Homo sapiens: one gene and its partners. The protein of the gene in region 3 purifies or fractionates together with the protein of the main gene of each other region. This does not show direct contact. Each region holds a gene or a part of one and is shown on either strand. Other genes may lie near its edges. The genes, in order: PROCR, GRTP1, PCDHGC3, SPTBN4, GAP43, CNTN1 and CD109.

Region 1 (2,791 bases), on a different chromosome or scaffold from region 3:
ACTGGAGCTCGGTGGCGCCTGGGCCTTTGAAGATTGCTGGGTGGGGGCTGGAGAGAGGCAGTTGTCCCCGCTAAGAAAGCCCCGACTCGGGCGGTCGTCCTGCTGGCATAACCTCTTGGGATAGACCCTGTTGGAAGGCCCTGACACCGTGACGTCGAAGGTCCCCAGAAAACTCCTCACCCCTCGCCTCACAGTCCTCCAACTCCTTTTCTTCATAGATCTCCGTCCTTCCCTTCCCACAGCCCCCAGCACTTCACCCCCCACCCTCCAGCCACTTCTCATACAAGCTGATGACTTCGCTCTTAGCTCCACTCATGACCCGAACTCTTCCCCCAAAGACCCCAAGTTCTTCTCTCAAAGCCCCACTCCTTCCCCGTCACAACCCTAACTCCTTCTTCTCAAAGACCCCAATTTCTTTTCTCAAAGCACCAAGCACCACTCCGTCCCCCTTCCCCCACCATCATGGCCTTTAACTCCTTTCTCTCCTAGTCCCCCACCCCACCCCCCTTTTTTTTTTTTTTTTTTTTTTTTGAGACGGAGTCTTGCTCTGTCGTCCAGGCTGGAGTGCAGTGGCGCGATCTCGGCTCACTGCAACTTCCGCCTCCCGGGTTCAAGCGATTCTCCTGCCTCAGCCTCCCAAGCAGCTGGGACTACAGGCACCCGCCACCACGCCCGGCTAATTTTTTGTATTTTTAGTAGAGACGGGGTTTCGCCATGTTGGCCAGGCTGGTCTCGAACTCCTGACCTCAGGCGATCCACAAGCCTGGCCTCCCAAAGTGCTGGGATTACAGGCGTGAGCTGCCGCCCCTGCCCCAGCCTCACCCCCTGTTTTTTTTTTCTATTACAGTTGAACAAGGCCTGACAATTCCCTTTTTTCATCACAGTCCCTGGCCCCTTCTTTCTTAGCCTCTAACAGGCTAACCCCAAACCCCTCCTCACAGCCCCAGGCCCTTCTCCCCATAGTTCCCTGACCTAGACTCCCCTCTCCTCACAGCACTGACTCTTGCCTTCTCATGTTCTTTTCCCCTTGGTGGGCCTCGCCCCACACCTGGCACCCTCTCTGCACAGTCCCCTGACCCTGACTGTCTATCCACAGTTCCTCTGACCATCCGCTGCTTCCTGGGCTGTGAGCTGCCTCCCGAGGGCTCTAGAGCCCATGTCTTCTTCGAAGTGGCTGTGAATGGGAGCTCCTTTGTGAGTTTCCGGCCGGAGAGAGCCTTGTGGCAGGCAGACACCCAGGTCACCTCCGGAGTGGTCACCTTCACCCTGCAGCAGCTCAATGCCTACAACCGCACTCGGTATGAACTGCGGGAATTCCTGGAGGACACCTGTGTGCAGTATGTGCAGAAACATATTTCCGCGGAAAACACGAAAGGTATGATGGGACGGGGCCCAGGCCTGCAAGCTGGGGAGAGGGCGGGTTCCAGACAAATGGATGGACCTGAAGGATGGATGCCTAGAGCAACAAGAGGCCCACAGCTGGGGGTTTGGGACAGAACACACGCAGCTTCAGTCAGTTGGTAAACGGGTCCCTTTCCTCTGGGGCAGAAACGCTTTGGGGTTTGACTCAAATCATGGACTCCTTGGGGGCCTATTCTTCGGGCTAACTCTTTGCATGTTCTGCAGGGAGCCAAACAAGCCGCTCCTACACTTCGCTGGTCCTGGGCGTCCTGGTGGGCAGTTTCATCATTGCTGGTGTGGCTGTAGGCATCTTCCTGTGCACAGGTGGACGGCGATGTTAATTACTCTCCAGCCCCCTCAGAAGGGGCTGGATTGATGGAGGCTGGCAAGGGAAAGTTTCAGCTCACTGTGAAGCCAGACTCCCCAACTGAAACACCAGAAGGTTTGGAGTGACAGCTCCTTTCTTCTCCCACATCTGCCCACTGAAGATTTGAGGGAGGGGAGATGGAGAGGAGAGGTGGACAAAGTACTTGGTTTGCTAAGAACCTAAGAACGTGTATGCTTTGCTGAATTAGTCTGATAAGTGAATGTTTATCTATCTTTGTGGAAAACAGATAATGGAGTTGGGGCAGGAAGCCTATGGCCCATCCTCCAAAGACAGACAGAATCACCTGAGGCGTTCAAAAGATATAACCAAATAAACAAGTCATCCACAATCAAAATACAACATTCAATACTTCCAGGTGTGTCAGACTTGGGATGGGACGCTGATATAATAGGGTAGAAAGAAGTAACACGAAGAAGTGGTGGAAATGTAAAATCCAAGTCATATGGCAGTGATCAATTATTAATCAATTAATAATATTAATAAATTTCTTATATTTAAGGCATTGTTATCTCCTCCACTTTGCAAAATTTCTGGAAAAGTAACCTATACCCATTTCTTCTGCTTCCTTATTTCTCACTCATTCTTTTTTTTTTTTTTTTTTTTTTTGAGACAGAGTCTTGCTCTGTTGCCTAGGCTGGAGTGCAATGGTGTGATCTCAGCTCACTGCAACCTCTGCCTCCCGGTTCAAGCAATTCTCCTGCCTCAGCCTCCCAAGCAGCTGGGATTACAGATGCATGCCACCACACCCAGCTAATTTTTGTATTTTTAGTAGAGATGGGGTTTCACCACGTTGGCCATCCTGACCTCGTGATCCGCCTACCTCGGCCTCCCCAAGTGCTGGGATTAGACGTGAGCCACTGCGCCTGGTCTTCTCACTCATTCTTAGACCCAGTGCAATCTGACTTCTCTATAAACTACTCTGAGATCACCAGTAACCTCTAATTGTCAAACCATCACCCTACATGGTATCTGCAAATTTGCGGACTAGAACTCTCTTTTTGC
Region 2 (4,009 bases), on a different chromosome or scaffold from region 3:
CTGGGCACTGACCCCCACCCCGCCCCCCGGTCTTGCAAGGGCTGGAGAAGGGTGAAAGGCAGAGGCGGGAGTCCGCACTTAGGGACCGGTCCGTTCCACACGCTGCTGACCAGGCTCCTGGGTGGCGCTCGCATGGAACATTCCGGAAACACCCATGGGAAGGTCCCAAGTTGGTTCCGAAAGGCCCTGACGGACGCGCAGGGGACGCTGAGCCTGTGATCCTCGCCTCACCCAGACGAGGCCGGGCTGCTTCTCACAGGAAAGTGCGTCTGGAGTCCGGGGACGGCCTCCTCCTGGGGCCTGTCCAGGTCGCCCTGGGCCTAAATTACAGGCGGGGAGAGGCCTGTCGGAGGAGCCCCCGCTCCAGACCCCTGGGGGACCCAGGGCGAGGTCGCCCCAGCGCCTCACGTCTGGGGGCTCCCCTTTGCCACGTCGCCAGAGCAAAATTCAAAATCTGCAGTTCTGGCAAATTTCCGGGGCCTCCCGGACACGAAAAGCAGCTGAAATCTCAGGACAATGTCATTGGATGCGGACCGAGAAGAAGCCGTTCGGAACCAGAGCTGCCCCGGATTCTCCCAGGCCTGGCTCGCCGGTGGGGGGACCCCGGTCCCTGGTTTGGGGGGGCAGGAACGGGCGGGCGCCCCTGGGGGCTTCTCATTTGTGTGTTGGTCTCGGCCTTGAAATGCAGCGGAGAAAATAAAAAATAAAATAAAAATAGGAGTCAGGTGTCAGAGTCGGGTCGGCCAGGCACTGAGGTTTGAAGGAATCGCAGAAGAAGCTCCTCTCACCCGGGTCCAGGCCGCGGGGGTTCTGCGGGAGGCGCCCCCGATTCTGCCCGCGGGACGCCGCGGCCTCGGAAGCCCCGGGAGCAGGCCCCGCCCCGCCCCCACCCTCCTCTCTCCCCAAGTCCTCCCGCCCCCCCAGCCCCGCCCCTCCCCCGCCCTGGGTGCTCCCCTGCCCCTCCCCCGGCCCTCCCCCGCCCCTCACCCGCTCCTGCCCCTCCTCTCTCCCCAGGTCCTCCCGCCCCCAGCCCCGCCCCTCCCCCGCCCTGGGTGCTCCCCTGCCCCTCCCCCGCTCCTGCCCCTCCTCTCTCCCCAAGTCCTCCCCGCCCCCAGCCGCCCCTCCCCCCGCCCTGCCCCCCCCCGCCCCCGCCTCCAGCCCCGCCCCTCTCCGCTCCCCGCCCCGCCCCCACGCGCCCGCGGTCCCGCCGGAAGGACTTAAGCGCCCCGGAGCCGGGAGGCGAACTTGGGACCCGCTGGCCTCGCTCGGTGCGCGCCTCCCTCCCCGCATGCAGCCCGCCGAGCGCTCGCGGGTCCCCAGGTGTGTGGCGCGGGGTGCGGGCGTCCCCGGCGGCTGCGGTCCCCGCGCGGGCCCGCGACCCCCCAGAGGAAACTTCGGGGACGCCGGCCTCCTTCTCTCGGTTTTGCAGGATCGACCCGTACGGATTCGAGCGGCCTGAGGACTTCGACGACGCCGCCTACGAGAAGTTTTTCTCCAGCTACCTGGTCACGCTCACCCGCAGGGCGATCAAATGGTCCCGGCTGCTGCAGGGCGGGGGCGTCCCCAGGAGCCGGACAGGTGGGTCCCGGGGGCGCAGGTGGGTCCCGAGGGCGCAGGTGGGTTGGGCTGGGACGGGCCGGGCAAAGTCCGGGCTCCCGGAGCGGAGGGAGGGGGAGGAACCTTTCCGGGCAGGTCGGGACGAAGCTGCGGGCTCCGAGCTAGGGCAGCCGCAGGGACCGGTTTTCCCGCTTTGAGATGGGCCGGCGGGTCGGACGCGAAGGAGACCCGTCCCTCCCAGCAGGGAGCCATATCGGGATGGATCAAAACTCGATCCATGCCGGGCGCGGTGGCTCACGCCTGTAATCCCAGCGCTTTGGGAGGCCGAGGCGGGCGGATCACGAGGTCAGGAGTTTGAGACCAGCCTGACCAACATGGTGAAACCCCGTCTCTACTAAAAATACAAAATTAGCCGGGCGTGGTGGCTCCTGCCTGTAGTCCCAGCTACTCTGGAGGCTGAGGCAGGAGAATCGCTTGAACCCAGTAGGCGGAGGTTGCAGTGAGCCGAGATTGCGCCATTGCACTCCAGCCTGGGCGACAGAGCGAGACTCCGTCCTTGTGACGGGACCCACAGGGCCCTGCTCGACCTGCCGCTCCTCCGCGACCCCAGGCCTCCTACTGCTGCGGTGAGCACCGGCCTGACCGCCCGCCCGCCTCGGGGTTAGCTGCAGGGCCCCCTCCTCCGGGGCGCCCCAGGCTTCCCTGTGCGGAGGGCACCTCCTCATTTCTGCCTTTCCCAGCACAGCCCCTGCTGGAGTCAAAAACCCTTCCTCCCTGCAACGGATTTTTCATTCACTGCTCAGTCCTCAGAACCTGGGGCAGTGCCAGGCGACTTCCCTGTGTGTTCAGTGAATGAATGAAGTGTCTGCCTGGGGTGAGGGCTTGGTGGGAGTGTGCCCTGGAGCTAGGAACTCAGAGAAGTGGGGTCAAAGGGGAGTCCTGGGGGCTTCCTGAGAAGGGGGATGTGAATGGCAGCTGGGCTTCCAGGGACCGAGCAGTAGGGACCTGGTGGGGAAGGACAGAGATGAAACCAGGGGCCCTGCACCTGGGCGGAGGGTCGGAGGTGTGTGGTGACCACGGCCAGGCACAGAGAAGCCAACTGTTAAAGGTTTTCCAGGCAGGGGGTGACAAGATCAACTTTTGCTTTTATTTATTTATTTGAGACAGGGTATCCCTCTGAGTGCAGTGGCACAATCACCACTCACTGTAGCCTTGACCTCCTGGGCTCCAGCCATCCTCCCCTCTCAGCCTCCCGCATAGCTGGGACCACTGGTGTGGCCACCACTCCTGGCTAATTTTTAAATTTTTTATAGAGATGGAAGTTAATATCCTATATGCTTCCCACGAATGCATCATGTCCCATCCCTGTGGCCTCTGCATGTTCACATGTTTCCAGTGGAACGTGTGTCTTTATTTTTCCTTTTCATTTATTCTTTTTGATTTATTTATTTTTGAGACAGAGTCTCACTCTGTCGCCCAGGCTGGAGTGCAGTGGTGCGATCTCAGCTGACTGCAACCTCCACCTCCTGGGTTCAAGTGATTCTCCTGCCTCAGCCTCCTGAGTAGCTGGGATTACAGGTGCACACCACTACACCTGGCTAATTTATTTTTTATTTTCTTATTTTTTTTATTTTGAGACGGAGTCTCACTCTGTCGCCCAGGCTAGAGTGCAGTGGCATGATTTCAGCTCATTGCAACCTCTGCCTCCTGGGTTCAAGCGATTTTCCTGCCTCAGCCTCCCAAGTAGCTGGGATTACAGGCACCTACCACCACGCCAGGCTAATTTTTCTATTTTTTAGTAGAGATGGGTTTTACCATATTGGCCAGGCTGGTCTCAAACTCCTGACCTCAAGGGATCTGCCCACGTTGGCCTCCCAAAATGCTGGGATTACAGGCATGAGCCACTGCGCCTGATTTATTCTTAAAAGTTAACTGTCTTTTAATTTTAAAAAGTAACGTAAAAGTATATAAGACATGTGAACTTAAAAAGCATAATTTATGTACATGGTAAACACTTTAATCATACTGAGGGCTACAAAGTGCAACAGGGAGTTTCTCTCCCACCCATGGCCCCCATCTCCTATAGAGATGACCGCAGGGGACTGTCCTTCCGTCCCCCTCAGGAGCAGAAGTCCACGCTTGGTTCTGCAGTTTGCTTTAAGAGCAGGGGAAGTCCGTGGGAAGTCCTGTGGCTGTGACCTGGAGGTTGGTTACAGCGGAGAATCTGAAAGATGTATGGTTGTGCATAAATTTTTGTTTTTACAGAAAACACAACTGCACAGTCATTCTCCCGTCTTTGCCTTTGCCATTTGGGTCTGTCCTATTGCTGTCCTTTTCTTCGACCAGGAGCTGCTAACTTGGGTTCCATATTTTCCTTTTTAGGGAACCACTCAGCACATTGCCCCCACTTTCCAATATGGACTTGGGAGGGGGTTCTGGGAAGAGCAGGGAA
Region 3 (3,255 bases):
TGCAAGGCAGGTCTGATTTCTCACACTCGACAGATGAGAGAACCGAGAAGGCACTTGCCCCAGGGTCCTCAGTTTTGAGCTGCCAAGCTGAGGTTCTAACCTGGCTCAACTCCTAAGTTTATGCTCTTTCTACTATAGGGACCATGGCTGCCTTTGGATCCAGCCTCGGCTTCTCTATTACCTGAGCAGGATGAGAGGCTGTCCTCTTCCTCGAGCTCTGCTTTATTCTTCCAGATCAGGGTTGCCAGATAAAATACAGGATGCCCAGTTACAGTTGAATGTCAGATAAACAGCAAGTACTATTTCAGCATAAGTCAGTCTCAAATGTTGCATGAGACATAATGTACTAAAAAAAAAAATGCTCATTGTTTACCTGAAATTCAAATTTAACTGGGAGCCCTGTACTTTTATTTACTAAATCTGGCAACTCTACCCCAGATGTCTGTGAGGTTAAGTGGGGCCAGGCCTACAGCTGACGGAAGGACAGAGAGAGAGGTGGCAGGGACTGCTGGCCTCCTGAGGCAGAGCTGTCCCAGGTCTGGTGGGGCTATGATTCCAGAGAGGCCAGAGACTGAGTATGAAAGTGGCAGGCGGCTGGGTCTGAGGAGATGCCAAGTTGGCCTCTTGAGGGAAATAAACAGGTATATTTAGCTGTTGTGGCCTTGCGCCCTGAGGCCAGGAAGCAGCTTTTTAGCCTAAATCCAGATGTTAAAAACAGAAATGAAATCAGTATTTATGGCCCCAAACCCTCCAAGCAAGTCATGCAGCTCGTTCCCCTGTCAAGGCCTCCCACCTTTGGCCCACACAGGGCCTGACCCTCGTCTAAGCCTGCGCCCTGGGGAACGGACCCTGGGGGTGGAGGTGGTGGGTCAGGCCCTGCTCTCACTTTCACACCCGCTTCCTAGCCCTGAAACCAGAGAGGTTCCTGAAGTCCAGCCCAGCCAGGCCTGTGGGGCTGCTGAGAGGGGTTAAGTAAGAGGGAGAGTAAAAACCGACACTTGGGAGGAGGCTTTTAAAATAAACATCTGCGGGGAGGGATGCTCTCAAGGAGGCTGCGGTTTGCAGCTCAGCCAGCTGTGTTCCAGCTAATCAGCCTCCTTGGGCTACTCTGGAGTTGCTGCCTTGGCCCTGGGATGGGGTAGGTTAAGAGGACAGAGGGAGGTCAGGGAGCTGGGGGCTGAGTTTCCCTGAGTAGAGGCTGGCACAGGAGAGAAGGCATCACCCCCACCTCGTCCAGGCCAGAAGATGTCCAGCTTCTTGAGGCTCTCCTAAGTCTGCCTCTCCTGGGACCAAGAGAAAATCCCGGTCCTTGACCAAGGTGGGCCTTGGGGGGAGTGGGGTGTAGAGGGAGGGGCACTGGAGAACTGACTCTACAGAAAGTCAAAGCTGGCAATCCAACTTCTTCCCCTCAGATTTATAGATGGGAAAACAGGCTTGAGCCACGCAGAGACTTGACCAAGCTCACACAGTTCCTTAGTGGCAGAGCAGAGCAAATATTCTCTTTCTTTTACATTCTGGATTTCCATATCTTCTCTCCCTCCTGGTCCAGCCCAACCTCAGGGCACCCCCCACGAGGTGGGCGGGGGATGGCTTTGTCACTTGCACCCACTCGGGGTGCTACTCAGAGATCTTGGGTGCACATAGGACGTGGGTGGGCCGAGCTTCTAGCTACTCCGTCAGGCCCTTCCTGTCATTCTGTCTCTGCCTCCCTTCTCCCTGCTTCTCCGTGTTCCTCCTCATTCTTTTCTGTGTGCAGGGAGACTACACCCCCCACCCCGCTCTTTCTCTGGCGCCTCTGAGGTCCCCCCTCTAGCCCCTAAATCACTCTGGAATCCTGGCTCTTTGAAGCCAGATCTGGGCCCCCCTCCCCTACCCCTTCCATTCCCAGGCTGGGAAAGGCTGAAGAGGCTGACGGCTGGAGGGGAGGGGGCGGGGCGGTGGCGGATCTGGCTTCCTTTTGGAGTTAATTAGGGAAAACAGAGAAATGTCAGCGGAATGAAAGGGCTGGGGGTGGGGGCCAGCTGGGGTAGGAGAGGAGGAAGTGGGCAGCTGCTCCCTCCCACTCAACCCCTCTCCCCCGCCCCCAGAAAGCTCTCAGCTCCGGGGATTTGCGACATGAAATGGGGGCTGTAGAAACCTGAGCGCTGGTGCGTGAAGAGAAAAACCGAGGCGCATCCCGGCTCTCCCCTCCCGTGTGCCCTCCTCCTCTTATGCCGGCTTGAAAATATTTCCTGTCTCTCTATTTCTCAATCCCTGGTTGATGTCCCAGGATTACTCAGCCTCTCCGGCTTTAGTCACTCTCGCTACCCGCTCCCAGGGTCCAGGGTGGAGGCAGAGGGAGGCTGGGAGAGAAGCTCTACTGCCAGCTGGGCCTGGGCTGGCCTGGGCATCCCTGAGGTTTTAACTGTCTCCTAACCACAGAGGATCTCAGGGCCTCCAGCAGCGAGCCCCAATGAGTCAAACTCTTGTTTCCTCCTCTCCCACCCCCGACCCAGTCAGGGCAGGTGAGGGGTAGAGGTGATGGCATGCTGGATGTGACGGTGTTGATGATGTATTGCACAGGATGAAGCACCATCTCATTTAGTCCTCACAGCAGCCTTCACAGTGCGTACAAATCAGCTGGCAATTCCGAGAGGCTGCATTCTAAACAAGTTCCTGGGTGATGCTGAGCCAGGGCCAGAGTGTGGACTTCTCTGGGCCCCAGTTTCTTCTTCTGTACAGTGGGACGTTGGACTGGAGGTGCTGTCTGATGTCACCTAGCTGTGGCACTCTGAGCCTGTGCCTAAAGTGTCCCTGAGATGTCTAGTCCCCGAGATCATCATCTCCTCAGCTTCATAGAGCCGAGCTCTTCTCCATCTTCTCTCTACCTCCCATTCACTCAGAACAGGGATAAGGTCCAAGCTGCTGGTGGTGATGGTGACTGACTGTCCCTTCCAGCATGCGCTTAGGTACACTTGGGCCTGAATGCCCCTCTAACAAATGCTACCGGGTATGGCCTTGGTCCTTCTAACACTTGGTTCCCTCATCTGTAAAATGAGGGTCATACCACATAGCTGGCTGGGCTGTTATGTAGAGGTTAAAAGTGATTGTGCATGTGAAGCATCCAGCAGAGTGCCTGGCACACAGTAGGTGCTCAAATGCTGTTTTGAAATACAAAAATTAGCTGGGCTAGTGGTGTGCACCTGTAATCTCAGCTACTCAGGAGGTTGAGGCAGGAGAATCACTTGAGCCCAGGAGGCAGAGGTTGCAGTGAGC
Region 4 (4,024 bases), on a different chromosome or scaffold from region 3:
AGCCAGGAACAACGGGGCGGAGCTGGCTCGAAGGGCCACGCCTCAGACTCTCCGCCCGCGGCTCAGGTCAAGGGGCGGGGCCTAACGCGGATGGGCGGGGCAGGCGTCAGCTTGCATTCGCTCACCGTCCAGCACCGCCCTCTCTGCGCGCCACTTAGACTGGAAGGCGGGGCCACAGAAGGCCACGCCTCCACATAGCAACAAATAGAGTGGACGGAGCCGAGATAACTTGTCACTCAGCGCCCTGCCTCCGCGCTCCACCTCCCGGAGAGGGGCGGGGCCAGGCGAGCCTCACCCACGGCCTCTCGTAGCTCACGCCCCCTCTCCCGGAGCCTGGAGCGGATCTGGGGCGCACTCTAAGCCCCAGGGCCTCCCAGAACCAGCAAGGGGAGAAAGTTAGGAGGACAGAGTGTGTGTGTGCACTTGGATGTAAGACACTGTGTCACGGCGTACCTATGCACTTATATGACCCTGTGTGACTCAGTGACCCGGAGGGCAAGCAGGACTGTGGGTGACACCTTGTGTCATCCTCTGAGTGTGATCCCGTGTTACAGTGTGACTACACGTGCGTGACACCACGTGTGGCAGGCATTGATTCTGTTCTTTTGTGACCTTGTGGTGACACCGTGGGTGACACTGCGTCAGCCTGTACGATAGGGTGTGGGACGTGTGAGGTGTGCTACATGGAAGCGTGAGACTAATTAGACTGTGACAGTGTGTGACACCACATGTCTCGTGTAAGGATGTGTGACACCGGGACCCCATTCGAGTGTGTGGCTGTGGGTGTCTGTGTTGAGCTGCTCATTGTGACCCCCTGTGACTATGATGTGTGAGGTGCGGCGGTGCAGCATGTGCGGGGCGACTGCTATGAAGGTTCGAGTGTGTAGAGTGTGTGACACTGTGGCTGTGAAGCTGTGCGTGATGTGTGGGCCTATGACACTGTTTGTGACTGCCGGGGAGTGTGCGGCTGTGTGTGACAGGTGCATTTGTGTGTGACGCCGCGTGGGCGGTGGTTACCCTATTGGATTTGTGTGGTGGTGGGTGACACCGTTCCAGTGTGGACGCCGCGTGTGACGGCGTGAGGGTGTGACCCCGTGAGACCCCACAGGAGGGAGTGACGGCGCGCAAGCGCGTGGATGCGGGGGTGAGTTTGTGCGCCGAGGCCCCCGCGAGTATGGCAGCGTGGCGAGCGTGACCCCGTGGGAGTGTGCAGCGCGTGACGCCGCCGTGCCCTCGCGAGTGCAGCCGTGCACCCCACGCCGCGGCCGGGTGTGACTGCGCGTGGGCCTCGGGCGGCGGGGCGCGGGGACCGCGGGCGGGAGGGGGTCCCGGGGGCGCGCTGAGCGCGGCGGCGGCGCGAGAGAGGGAGGCGCGGCGGCGCATGCGGATCTGGCTGAGCCGCGGGCCGGCGGGGCCGAGCTGAGCCGGGCTGGGCCGGGCCGGGCCGGGCCGGGCAGCGGACGCCGACAGGGAGGGCGGTCGGTCGCGGCGAGCAGCGGAGACAGCGACGCTGGCGGCCGCGGGCCCAGGTGAGCTGCTAGGGGGGCCGACAGCCCCTCCCCCAAGTATGTCCCCACCTGGCGAGCATCCCTCCTCCGCGCGCACGGGGCATGGCTGGAGCCCCGGGTCTCCCCGGCTGGAGGGAGGCAAAGGGTCGAGGGCAGGACGAGCCCACAACCCCCCCACCCGGTCTAGCTTCCGCGCCACGCGTGGGTCTTACCCCCAGGCCTTGTCCTTCCCAGGCCCCCTCCTTGGGCGCAGTGTCTGGACCGCAGGGAGAGAGGCGCGGCCTGGGAAGGGTTAAAGCCTCTGATGCCACCGCAGCCCAGCGCCCCACCAGCCTTTGCGGGGGGGGGGGGGTGTTGGGGGGAGGCTCGCAGGACACCCCTTCCCGGCTTCCCTATTACCTGCTCCCTTCCTTCCCATTCAATCGCGTTATGGCCAGAGCTGATCCTCGGCCTGGCCAGAGGGCTAACAGGAGTGCTAAGGGCCTCCCCATCTCTAAGTGTCTTCCACTGAAGAAAACAGCTGTAACCACCGTTTAACAGGGAGGGAAACTGAGGCACAGAAAGGCCAAGTTAAAGATACTCGGTTAAAGATACAGCAAGAATAAAGCGGAACTTGAACTCATTTCTGTCTGACTCCAGAAGAGGCAAATCGATTTGCTGAGATGTGTGAGGAAAAGATGAAGAATAATAGCAAGGAACATGTATCAAGGGCTTGCAGTGTACCAGATACCATGATCCCTGCATTAATAACTTACCTCTTCAAACACCGCTAAGAAACGGGTACGATTATCATTACTTTTTTTTTTTTTTGAGACGGAGTTTCACTCTTGTCACCCAAGTTGGAGTGTAATGGCGCGATCTTGGCTCACTGCAACCTCTGCCTCCCGACTTCAAGCAGTTCTCCTGCCTCAGCCTCCCAAGTAGCTGGGATTACGGGCATGAGCTACCATGCCTGGCTAATTTTGAATTTTTAGTAGACATGGGGTTTCACTATGTTGGTAAGGCTGGTCTCCAACTCTTGACCTCAGGTGACCCACCCACCTCCTTGGCCTCTCAAAGTGCTGGGATTATAGGCGTGAGCCACCGCCTGGCCTACCCTTTTGTGTGTGTGTGACAGAGTTTCATTCTGTCATTCAGGCTGGAGTGCAGTGAGTCAATCTCAGCTCACTGCAACCTCCATCCCCCAGGTTCAAGCGATTCTCCTGCCTCAGCCTCCCAAGTAACTGGGACTACAGACACGTGCCACCACGCCTGGCTAATTTTTGTATTTTTTTTAGTAAAGACCGGGTTTTGCCATGTTGGCCAGGCCGGTCTCGAATTCCTGGCCTCAAGTGATCCACCTACCTTGACCTCCCAAAGTGCTGAGATTATAAGCATGAGCCACCGTGCCGGGCCATCATTACTATTTTGCAGATGAACAAACTAAGGCCCAAAGAGTGGAAGTATTTCAGCCAAGGTCACACAGGTGGTAGGTAGCTGTGTGCTCACTTTCACTTTTCCATGGAAGGAGGGAAGAACAAAAATGGATTTGGGACTGGGCACAGTGGCTCACATGTGTAACCCCAGCACTTTGGGAAGTTGAAGTGGGCAAATAGCTTGAGCCCAGATGTTTGAGACCAGCCTGAGCAACATAGTGAGACCCCCTCTCTACAAAAAATACAAAAATTACCTGGTCATGGTGGAGCTTGCCTCTAGTCCCATCTACTCAGGAGGCTGAGGTGGGAGGATCGCGTGAGCACAAGAGTTGGAGGCTACAGGGAGCTATGATTGTGTCACTGCACTCTAGCCTGGGTGATAGAGCAATACCTTGTCTCAGAAAAAAAAAAAAGATTTCAATGTGTCCCCCTAAGGGACAATTTCCACTCTACTCACTCTACTGACCAAGACTTAGACCCTGCCTTCCTAGAATTCAGTGGGTTGGCAATTGTCTGGGTCTTTTGAGGACATTGATCTCCCAACTTCCTCCTTTGTTAGTCTTTTTTTTTTCCTTTTTCTTTTGAGAAGGAGTCTTACTCTGTCGCCCAGGCTAGAGTTTAGTGGCACAATCTCGGCTCACTACAACCTTCGCCTCCCGGTTTCAAGCAATTCTCCTGCCTCAGCCTCCTGAGTAGCTGGGATTACAGGCACCTGCAACCTTGCCCACCTAATTTTTGTGTTTTTAGTAGAGATGGGGTTTCACCATGTTGGCCAGGCTGGTCTTGAACTCCTGACCTCGTGATCCACCCGCCTCAGACTCCCAAAGTGCTAGGATTACAGGTGTGAGCCACCACGCCCAGCCGTTAGTCTTAGAATCAGGCCTGGGGGCCCAGAAGGTAAAGGAGATACATCTAATGTCACTTAACCCTTTAAATTTCTTCTCTTTTTTTTTGTTTTTTTTGAGATGGAGTCTCACTCTCTCACCCAGGCTAGAGTGCAGTGGTGCGATCTCGGCTCACTGCGACCTCCGCCTCCTGGGTTCAAGCAATTCTCCTGTCTCAGCCTCCTGAGTAGCTGGGATTACAGGCATGTACCACCAT
Region 5 (3,500 bases), on a different chromosome or scaffold from region 3:
ACCACACTTGAGATAAGTTCCTTCTGACTCGGGTAGCTAACCCACATGTGGACTATGTGGACATATAGGTATATATGCAGGAGACTAATTCTCAACCAACTTACCCTCTCACTAGATTTACAAGTGTGGGCTTACCAAAATTGTCTCTAACCTATGTCACCCAGCCCTTTTTCCAGTCAGAGATATCGGCCCTGTGGCAGTTGCTAGGTGACCCAAGCAGGACCAATAAAATTCATTCATCCTCATTCTCTCTCTCTCTGTCTCTCTCCCTCTGTCCCTCTCTCCCTTTGTCTGTCTCTCTCTTATCTCTCTCTTTCTCTCTCATCATTTAAAATTTGAATTGTAGCTGGGATTATTAATAACTGAGTCTTTTTTGATGCAGGGCCCCAGAAAGAGTTTATGAATTCCTGTTATTGAAATTCTACCCTGGTTCCCATAGGCTTCGTTGTTCAACTTACTAATTTCATATGATCGCTGCTTTTTTTCTTTTTCCAATAAATTCCTTTTATAGACTCTTAAAGTTGGTTTTGGATACTTGTTCCCAATCAAAAAACGCATATATAATAGAAGTAGTGTGTTCTGAGGCAGAAGAAGAAAGAAACAGGGAGAAAGGGATGTAGCTAGAGTGAAAGTTTAAAGGTGATACCATTAACCAAATATAAATATAATTAAAGAAATCATTATTTCCTTCTGGACACCAGTTTATTTTCAAATTTCTAGTTAACACACCTTTCTATTGCAGTCTACATGAGCCCTTTGTATAAAAGTATTTTGGGAAAATATGTACAATACTAATTTTTTTATGCTAAACTTTTGGCTTCTAGGAAAAATAGGATTTCTTAGACTAACTTGATCCAGTTATTATACTTTAAAGTATTTCTAAATGTTATCCATATGTTTAAAAACTCAGTTTCTTTGGTTTGTAGAATTCTGTGCTTATAGGAGAATCTGTTAAATTTTGTTGTTTTAAAGTGGTAATTTATCCCAGTCATGCCCAGGGACACAGAAGAACTATAATGTCCTTTGTGGAGATCTTGAGGGCTCAAAAGATTATGGCATTTAGAGTTGAGTTTGGAAAGGTTTAGGATTACATATCACCTCTCTAATCAAGGTTTATTCCTGTTGTATTGAGGAGCCCTGAAGTCAGGTTGTGGAAATGGTGATCAAGGGATCATCTTTGAAATGTGCTTCCCCCAACCAAACTGTATCTACATTTTCAGTCTCCCAACCAGCCCTGCATTTTCTCTCCACTCTTCTGCCTGACTGGGCCCTCATGTGATGGATGTGAGCACAGCATGCCTGGCCATCTTAGTGCTGAGAACCCAGTTTGGAGGTGAAGTGGGGGTGGGTATAGAGGGGGAGGCAGCAAACTTAGCAAATGGAGAAGAAAAGAGATCTAAATGTGAGGAAAAGACTAAAACAGAAAAAGATAAAAAGAAAAACAGTGGGTATTTCTAATGCATTTGAAGTGATCCTTGGGTCTTGTAACACTTTGAATATTGGCTTATCTAAATTCTGTCACTGAAGTTTTCAAAGGAAATAATAAACAGATACTATGTTCCCATCCATTAGCATGGTTAATATTTACTCTGAGCCGTGCCCGGCTCATGCCTGTAATCCCAACACTTTGAGAGGCCGAGGTGGGTGGATCACTTGAGCTCAGCAGTTCAAGACCAGCCTGGGCAACATGGTGAAACCTTGTCTCTACTAAAAATTCAAAAGTGAGCCAGGCGTGGTGGCATGCAACTGTAGTCCCAGCTACTTGAGAGGCTGAGACAGGAGAATTGCTTGAACCTGGGAGGCGGAGGTTGCAGTGAGTCGAGATCACACCACTGCACTCCAGTCTGGATGGCAGCAAGACTCCATCTCAAAAAACAAACAAACAAAAAATTTACTCTGTAGAGTATGGGAATCAGGTGGAAATGGGGAATGTGTGTATTCTATACAGAGAGCAAGAGTACTTCTTGTTTGCTTAGAGCCATGAATACTTTAGTGCTCGATCTATGAAATTCCTTAATTAATAATACTTACATTTCAAAAACACATTGTTTGCAAAACACTTTTATTGTTATCTCTTTATTTGAGACTCACACCAACCTAATTTTAAGAAGAAAAGGTAAGACAGGATTTGGAGGTTCTTTTTATGTACCCACTACACAGATGAATATACTAGGCTCAGAAAGGTTAAATTACTTACCCAACATCACATGACAAGCAATTGGCAGAACCAGGTCTAGAACCCAGGGAAAGGATTTATTCCACTACAAAGACATGAAACAGGACATTAAACAAACAACATCTAAGAAAATAAGATCTGTAAATAATTAAGGATAGGAAATCTGGAAGATCACATTCCCGTGCTAAACCTGAATGAAATGACTGCAAGTGTGTCTCTCTGATCTAAGCAGACAGGAGAGGGAATTGAACTTTGACTACATCCACCTTGTGAGGGGGACCAATAGAGCTGAGCTTGCATTTACACAAAGCCCACGCTGAATAAGTAATCAGAAATGGTCGTCTGTCCCAGAACATCTCCCCTAATGACCCATCATGATGCTCCTTCCCTTCCTACATTTATTACTTCAACAAATATTTATTGAGAATCTAAGATGTGCCAGACATAGCTTAAAATACCTGTTTTGTCTATAAGTACTTTTTAGAAAGTTTGAAGAAACACACTTTTTCTTAAAGTTCTCCTTCCATAGCCTCACCCACTAAACACTAACATGAACTGGTATTACTTAATCAGAAAAACTCTACCTGGGTCTGACAGGAGGAGAAAATAATAGAAAAACTCAATGCCAAAGAGATTGGGAGCAGTAAGCAAGATATCAAGTGAGGGTATGGCAATTGACAAATACTACTGAACCTTACCAGTTGAAGACAAACTTCACTTACAAATTATTTAGTCTTTCTGCTGTTCTCAAGGACATGCCAATTCAGTCAGAGAAAATACACTACTTAGCGTCTGGCAAGAGTGTTTTCATGGAAAACAGTGGTTGCAATTTGTTCCATGCTGGGCACAATAGGACTACTTCAGAACCCAAGTCCCTTCAGTCTATTTAAACCTAAGAAAAATCCAATTCATCTGGTACTAACATTCCTTTAACAGTCATTTGAGGGACTACTTACCATTCACCCTCCCTATACCTCCAATCATGATTTATCTTTGTGAAATATTATTATGTGGATACTTCAGACGGAAGAAAAGAAATCCAAATGAAGGTAAAATTAATTTTTGAGCACACACACCTAAGCACAGGCCAGCACTACATGCATTTAAAGAAAAAAATATTGCTACTCTTAGTTGATTTATTTCATGGATCACACAGATTGATTTACGGTCTATTTGTAAGAGTTGTGAAGCAAAGCAGTGAGTGCAAGTACTTGGAGCCTCAAAGTAAGGGCATGTGAAGATCCAGAGTTGTGGTAACCAGAGAGGGTGGGGCTGTAATGTTGGTTGTTGGACGAGGAGGACATGGAGGGGAGATAGTGCCAGC
Region 6 (3,500 bases), on a different chromosome or scaffold from region 3:
ATCCATAACTTTTCTTAAACTTTAAGAGAAAAGTAATCCTGTAATTATTTGACAAAAGTAATCATTTCTAATGAAAAAATCGATAACTTTTTTAAAAATTATTTTATGGGTAAATAATTTCTACAGTTTATCCAGTTATTAGATATATTTCTTTGATATCTAGCTTCTATATGGGTTCAAAGGAAATAACATTAGATACTTCTGAAAGGAGGCAGAAGAAAGTATTACTTTAGCGTATTCTAGGCCACATAGTAACTATTTTTATCCAGCAAAATTATATTCCTCTCCAACTGCTTTAAGAATGGCTCAGAAGAAGTTTGAAATCATGCAAACAGAAGTAAAACAGGAAATAAATGATAAAAATTATAGTGACAAATACTTCCAAATGGAGACCACTTTTATATTTTGAAAGTAAGTCTGCTTCAAAGTTTTTGGGATTTTTAAATTTTTTATTTTTTATTTTTTTTAGTCAATGTAAAACAATTTTGGGCAATGAAGTAAGACTTTGATTCGCTTTTGGCATCTTTAGTCATTCCTGCCCTGTATGCTTTACTATATTCTAAGGCTGATAAAAGGGTAGATATCATTAAGAAACATTTGAAAATATGATGATCAGCCAACACCAATGGTAATAGAACCAGTTGAAGAGAACTTTTCATAGCTGAAGACTCTAAATCATGGCAAAATATAACTCATCCTGAATGTTTGCAGATTCGGTATTGGGCTGCCCATGACAAAGAAGAAGCTGCAAACAGAGTTCAAGTCACCAGCCAAGAGTACTCGGCCAGGCTCGAGAACCTTCTGCCAGACACCCAGTATTTTATAGAAGTCGGGGCCTGCAATAGTGCAGGGTGTGGACCTCCAAGTGACATGATTGAGGCTTTCACCAAGAAAGCACGTGAGTCTCACGTTTTGTTTTTAGACTTGTCAAAAACTACCACTGGATTCAATCATGATACGAATATATTTGAAGGAAATTTCCTACCTAGCTACCTGAGCACATTTTTCAATATCCTTTACAGCCACACAAGATTTCCCTTAAAACGTGAATTATTGTAGATGATGAAAAAATGTGAAAAATACCCTCACACGTTAAATATTCCATTATAGAAATAAAGTTAGAGAACTATCCTTTTGTAAAGGCTGTCCTCTCAAATTCTGTGCCATTAACTTGTCTTTACCCTGTACTTATTAATTTAAACATTGTTTTCATAGGAGTACATCAACAGCATGTGAAAACTAAAATTCTGCTTATTTTTACATGCTTTAATTTATAAACCTCTGTCATTGCACAGTGCAATGCAAGTTAAGTGTGTAGCATTATGCTTACTCTCTTATTACTGTATGTTCTAGTACTGTATGTTTTAGGTGGTTCATAAAACAAGACCGCCTATCCCTGCTCACGTTCTGGTCATTCTAATCTCTCTGGGTTCATTTTGATATCTCTGTTCTTGAACCCAAGTGGAATAAGTAAAAAGGAGAATTTTTATGTAGGACTCTAGGGAATGTCTCAAGAATCTGAAGATGTGATTACCATTAGAGTGTGAAAATTTATGAAATTCACTTTGGGACAGAGACTCTCCCAGTGAGATGACAGAATGTAGTGACAAGAACTAGAATTTGGTGTCTAACATGTGTTTGAGATCTGTCTCTGCCACTTGCTAGATGTATGACAATAGATAAATTACCTATTTAAACCTCAGTTTTCTAATTTGTAAAAGGAGCATTCATTTTTGTTCTTTTTCCATTTGTTCATGTATTTATTCATTCATCAAAAATATGCTGTGTGCTCAGCACTATTCTTGATGGTGAGGATACAAAAGGGATCAAACCAGTCCAAGGTGCTATTCTCGCATGGTTTACAAGCTAATGAAATGAGATAGAAACTTCAAACAAACACAAACTCTGACAAATAAATAAGTGGGATTAAAGCAGCTGACAGGGCAATAAAATGAATAAATAGACAAAAGTAAAGTGACTTAGATAAAAGTGAAATTCTGATTGGGTGGCCAGGAAAGGCCTCTGAGAAGATGCCAGTTAAGCTATGATTTGAGTGATAAATGATAAGAAGAACCCACTATGTGAATAGCTTTAGGCAGAGCCTTAAGGTTCTTTGCACTCTAAGTAGTACAAAACCTTAAGGTGAAGAGCACTTAAAATATTTTAGGTGTGGAAAGGCCACTGGGTCCAGGGCATAGGTTCTGAGTAAGGAGGGGGAAGTGTTCTGGGGCCCAATTACGGAGAACCTTGTAAGTAATTGTGATGAGTTTGAGTTCTTTCTAAACATGATAAGAAGCCATTGAAAGATTTTAAAACAGAGAGTGATATCTAATTTATGATGTTGTTTTTAAAAAAGTCATTCTGGCATCTGTACAGAAAATGGATTGTGGTGGGTTAACAGTGGAAGCAGAAAAGCCAGTTAGGAGACTATTTCAGCAGTCAAGGAGAGAATTGATAGTGGCTAGCACTAAGTGAAAATGGAGACAGAAGTGGAAAGTTTTCTGTAGGCAGAGTTGACAACTTGCTGCCAATTTGGATGTTGGCAATGAGTGGGATGAGAGACTAAATACCAAATTTCTGCTTGAGAAACTAGGGGGTTGGTTGTGCCATTTGCTGACGATGGCAAAGAGTCATTGGAGAAAGATTTGAGGATACTCGACATTATATTACATTTGAAAAATGTATTACATTTGATTATATTACATTTGAGAAATCTTTTAGAGACTCAAGTAGAAATAGGCTGATATCTGCCTAGACAGAGAGACCTATAGCCACATATGTCTAGAGGTTGAAAGAGAGATTAGGGCTAGAGACAGAACTGTGAATATTTAAAGCCATGGGCCTAAGTGTCAGTACTTAGGGAAGATCCACAGAGAGAGTAGAAAAGGTACATAGATGAAGTCCTAAATCATCCAACAGTTACAAGTTGACAGAGGGAGCCAGCTAAGCATGAATAATGGGAAGCAGCAGCCCATGAGGTAGAAGGAAAACCCAGTTGTTAAGATCTGAATTTAAGAAAAAATGAGAGATTCAAGAAAGAAGATGGTCAATTCTGTGAAATGCTCCAAAAATGTTAAATTTAAAAAAGAATAATCAAGTGACATTAGATTTAACCAAGTGGAGGTGATTGATGACCTTGCAAATAGCAATTTCAAAAGACTAGTGGAGAAAGAAACCCAAGTGGAGCATGATGAGAAGAGAATAAAAGTCATATTACCTAGCTCACAGGGCCATGGGGTACATTAAATGGACTCATGGATGTAAAGTGCTTAGCATAGTGCCTGGCATATAGTAAACACTTATTAAAACTAGATGGTGGTGGTCATTATCATCAGCATTATAATACCTGATGCAATAGAGTATGCAGAATTGAGATTGGATATAGTGACCACTGATTGCATATTACTACTTTTCACAGCTCCTAGCCAGCCTCCAAGGATCATCAGTTCAGTAAGGTCTGGTTCACGCTATATAATCACCTGGGATCATGTCGTTGCACT
Region 7 (3,611 bases), on a different chromosome or scaffold from region 3:
CCTGTACATAGAAAATAGATCCCCAGACAGTGGTCTATGAAGAGGGCAGTTAAGTATCAAATACTTAATTTTCTTGCCTTTTTTTCTTAAGTGGGGAAAAGTTTCTAGATCTCTTACACCTCTGACACAATCTGTTCTAAAACAGGCACTTGTAATGTTGGGGCCTCCTTGTAAACGTGTTTTTGCCCTTTACTCTCTGGGAGTTCTTTAAAGGTGAAATCATCTTACAAAGAAATTGGGGGAGGGTCTTGGCAAAGGACTTTCCCCTCCTCTTTCCTGGCCTGGGAACCTTATACTGACAATCAATACTTTATATTTTAAAGTATATAATTTATAGTTAACTTCTAGTGTAATATATTAGGAAACACTAGAATGGAAAGGCCATTGGAAGACAGGTTGTATCTTTTTTAGACCATATTTCCTTGTTTAAAAACTATCATTTGAATACTTTTTTGGTGAAGAACTCCATGTTTTCAAGTTAAAGGTCACCTCGTAGGCCAGGCGCAGTGGCTCATGCCTGTAATCCCAGCACTCTGGGAGGCTGAGGCGGGTGAATCACAAGGTTAGGAGTTTGAGACCAGCCTGGCCAATATGGTGAAACCCCGTCCCTACTAAAAATACAAAATTTAGCCAGGCGTGGTGGCATGCACCTGTAGTCCCACCTACTCGGGAGGCTGAGGCAGGAGAATCACTTGAACCTGAGAGACAGAGGTTGCAGTGAGCCGAGATCACGCCACTGCACTCCAGCCTGGGGGACAGAGTGAGATTCTGTCTCAAAAAACAAAAAACAAAAAAGTCACCTTGTAACTCATCTCTTTTTATTGTAAGTTTATTAAAAATGAAGAGGACAACAATGAGAAGGAACATAAAGGGTTAGCTAGCACTGTCTCCTGGTGCATGGGGCTGTGCAGATGTCCCGGCCACTTCTTCCTTCATACTTCCCTTAGAGAACTTGCTCTGCTACAAGCAGTGGGCTTGGACTAAAAGTGATTAAAATACCACAGGCATAAGGAGAAAAGGAGTATATGTAGTAGTAATAATTACTAGTATAAATTATTTTCTTCACATGCTATGAGTAATAATATTAAAAAACTCATTTTACCATTAAGATTCCTTATGCTGAAGCTCTTCCATTTAGAATACTGTCAATGTCATTTACTGGTATGAACTAAAGTCCCCCTTCTTTTCCACTCACTGGGAACCTTAGTAAAACACCAGCATATCTTACCTCTCTTTCTGACTGGCCGATGCTTCCAGAGACTGAATGTTGGGAAAACCTAGTAGCCAAACAATTCTAGGACAGAATAACATTTTTATATTTGGTTCCACCATCTTATTACATTTAGTTATAGTTTTAAAAAAGAAATTCAAGCCCATTAAAATATGTCTGGTCAATGAAATGCTTCCTTTTATTGTGTTGTGCTATTGTACTTTGTTTTTCAAAACATTGTAAAAATAGTATCTTTGGTTTAGTATTTTGGATTATATATTATAATCTGAGGAGTGTTTTGCTTATGTAGAATCCAGATATATTTCTGTTACCTAGGAGATGTTACTTACATATGTAATACTGTATCCTGCACGTGGAAATATTCAGAATTGTAGATAGCATAACTCTCCCTGCTCCTATTCTTTTGAGCCTAGGTATAATTTTTTTTTTTTTTTTAGAAAAAGACATATTTAGCTTTAATTTCTATTTATGCTAAACATATTTATAAGTAGTCTGTCAATATAATACCAACTATTTTTATTTTTACATAATTCAATTATTTCATTTGACATGTCTGGCAGACTCAAGACATTAAGTAAAAAATTGGAACTATGATTTTTCTTTGTCATTTTTTAAAAAAGAATTATTTTATTAACCTGCTGGCATATAATCTGGAGTTCTTTTCACAACCTTACTTTTTCTGATTTGCTTTATTGAATGATTGAATACTCATTTCTTTCTAAAAATATGTTGTAAATTCTCCCTTGGCAAGATTTCTCCCTATGAGGGTAGTTATTATTTGAGTCTGCCAAGTGGTTACCATGGGGCAAGGTGCCATGATGTATTCTTGGGTGCATTGGTTTTTTGCGCATTGTAAATTTAAGACACTTATAGTAAGTGGACTCATTCATAGATGAGTTTCAGAACCTTTTACGTTCTCGGTAGAGGCTTCTGTCGGACAGGCAGAAGAGTGTATTCCTCACTTTTTTTTTTGTCTTCAAATTCCAGTAAGGCATAGCACTTTTAAGAAATTAGAATTTTTCTATCATCTATGCAAATGATATTTATGTTAATATTAAATATCTTATGTTACACTGGGAGTAATTTGAGGTGCAATTATTTTTATTACTACTTTGAATAGAGGACCATTATCCTTCTTTCTTCAGAAAACTAAGAAGTAAGTGTAACTTTTAAAGTAAGTATATATCAGTGAGAGTAGGCTTGTTTTACAACTATTTCTAGCCAGTGAGTTGTGTTTTCATGTCTCATCAAAAGACAATACCACATTGCATCATTTTACAAAATATGTTGTCATTTTCATTTCAGTTGTAACATAGGAAAATAGATATTTCCTAGATGATTTCTGAGTTTCTTACTGCAAAGAACAGTTATAAATTGGTATACATGTGTCTCTGTAATAGGGATAATATTGATATATCTGTTGCTACATATTTAAGAATCATTCTATCTTATGTTGTCTTGAGGCCAAGATTTACCACGTTTGCCCAGTGTATTGAATTGGTGGTAGAAGGTAGTTCCATGTTCCATTTGTAGATCTTTAAGATTTTATCTTTGATAACTTTAATAGAATGTGGCTCAGTTCTGGTCCTTCAAGCCTGTATGGTTTGGATTTTCAGTAGGGGACAGTTGATGTGGAGTCAATCTCTTTGGTACACAGGAAGCTTTATAAAATTTCATTCACGAATCTCTTATTTTGGGAAGCTGTTTTGCATATGAGAAGAACACTGTTGAAATAAGGAACTAAAGCTTTATATATTGATCAAGGTGATTCTGAAAGTTTTAATTTTTAATGTTGTAATGTTATGTTATTGTTAATTGTACTTTATTATGTATTCAATAGAAAATCATGATTTATTAATAAAAGCTTAAATTCTCATCTATTTATTATGTGTTCTTTTTATTTTAGCATAAAGCATGTCTATAGCACACCTCCCTTATTTAAGCTTATTTATGAGAAACAGGATATTTGAGGCTAGCTTAGAGTAGGGATTATTGTGTTGCAAGGTAGCAACATAATGAAGTTGAAGAAATTTGATTACCAGCCTCCTTTACCTCCCCGCTCAGTGGAGAGGTAAGTAATACACAAATTAAAAAAATTAATGTGAGGTGAGCACTCACTTAATCTCTGGAAATTATATAGAAGTATATAGAACACATAGTTTTTATACACACAGGAAAATGGAGGCACAGATTGTCTCAGCCAGAACATAAGATTTCATGTACATTTTCTTAATTCCCACCCAGTGTTATTTAATATTTCTGTTGCCATGAATTTTCTGGGCTTCTGTGAAATACTAAAGATAGCATTTCACAATCGGGGGTTCTCAACTGGAAGTGATTTTGCCTTCAGCAACCATTTGCCAATGTCTGTACATTTTTT

What was found.
Region 1: the proteins of PCDHGC3 (region 3) and PROCR purify together in Homo sapiens (affinity purification with mass spectrometry; one large-scale study listed by BioGRID and IntAct). This does not show direct contact.
Region 2: the proteins of PCDHGC3 (region 3) and GRTP1 purify together in Homo sapiens (affinity purification with mass spectrometry; 2 studies listed by BioGRID and IntAct, with this or other methods). This does not show direct contact.
Region 4: the proteins of PCDHGC3 (region 3) and SPTBN4 purify together in Homo sapiens (affinity purification with mass spectrometry; 2 studies listed by BioGRID and IntAct, with this or other methods). This does not show direct contact.
Region 5: the proteins of PCDHGC3 (region 3) and GAP43 purify together in Homo sapiens (affinity purification with mass spectrometry; 2 studies listed by BioGRID and IntAct, with this or other methods). This does not show direct contact.
Region 6: the proteins of PCDHGC3 (region 3) and CNTN1 purify together in Homo sapiens (affinity purification with mass spectrometry; 2 studies listed by BioGRID and IntAct, with this or other methods). This does not show direct contact.
Region 7: the proteins of PCDHGC3 (region 3) and CD109 purify together in Homo sapiens (affinity purification with mass spectrometry; one large-scale study listed by BioGRID and IntAct). This does not show direct contact.

The regions. Positions count from the first base shown.
Region 1 is NC_000020.11:35,175,072-35,177,862, forward strand, and holds the end of PROCR (endothelial protein C receptor precursor), read left to right. Parts: intron 1-1,096; coding exon 1,097-1,375; intron 1,376-1,626; coding exon 1,627-1,742; 3' UTR 1,743-2,291; downstream 2,292-2,791. UniProt on the Homo sapiens protein: Binds activated protein C. Enhances protein C activation by the thrombin-thrombomodulin complex; plays a role in the protein C pathway controlling blood coagulation.
Region 2 is NC_000013.11:113,361,331-113,365,339, reverse strand, and holds the start of GRTP1 (growth hormone-regulated TBC protein 1), read left to right. Parts: upstream 1-1,209; 5' UTR 1,210-1,288; coding exon 1,289-1,320; intron 1,321-1,429; coding exon 1,430-1,578; intron 1,579-3,471; exon of another isoform or gene 3,472-3,781; intron 3,782-4,009. UniProt on the Homo sapiens protein: May act as a GTPase-activating protein for Rab family protein(s).
Region 3 is NC_000005.10:141,506,966-141,510,220, forward strand, and holds part of PCDHGC3 (protocadherin gamma-C3 isoform 1 precursor), read left to right. Parts: intron 1-3,255. UniProt on the Homo sapiens protein: Potential calcium-dependent cell-adhesion protein. May be involved in the establishment and maintenance of specific neuronal connections in the brain.
Region 4 is NC_000019.10:40,465,777-40,469,800, forward strand, and holds the start of SPTBN4 (spectrin beta chain, non-erythrocytic 4), read left to right. Parts: upstream 1-1,224; 5' UTR 1,225-1,529; intron 1,530-1,947; exon of another isoform or gene 1,948-2,288; intron 2,289-4,024.
Region 5 is NC_000003.12:115,630,010-115,633,509, reverse strand, and holds part of GAP43 (neuromodulin), read right to left. Parts: intron 1-3,500. UniProt on the Homo sapiens protein: This protein is associated with nerve growth. It is a major component of the motile 'growth cones' that form the tips of elongating axons. Plays a role in axonal and dendritic filopodia induction.
Region 6 is NC_000012.12:41,024,439-41,027,938, forward strand, and holds part of CNTN1 (contactin-1 isoform 1 precursor), read left to right. Parts: intron 1-711; coding exon 712-898; intron 899-3,418; coding exon 3,419-3,500. UniProt on the Homo sapiens protein: Contactins mediate cell surface interactions during nervous system development.
Region 7 is NC_000006.12:73,825,203-73,828,813, forward strand, and holds the end of CD109 (CD109 antigen isoform 1 preproprotein), read left to right. Parts: 3' UTR 1-3,111; downstream 3,112-3,611. UniProt on the Homo sapiens protein: Modulates negatively TGFB1 signaling in keratinocytes.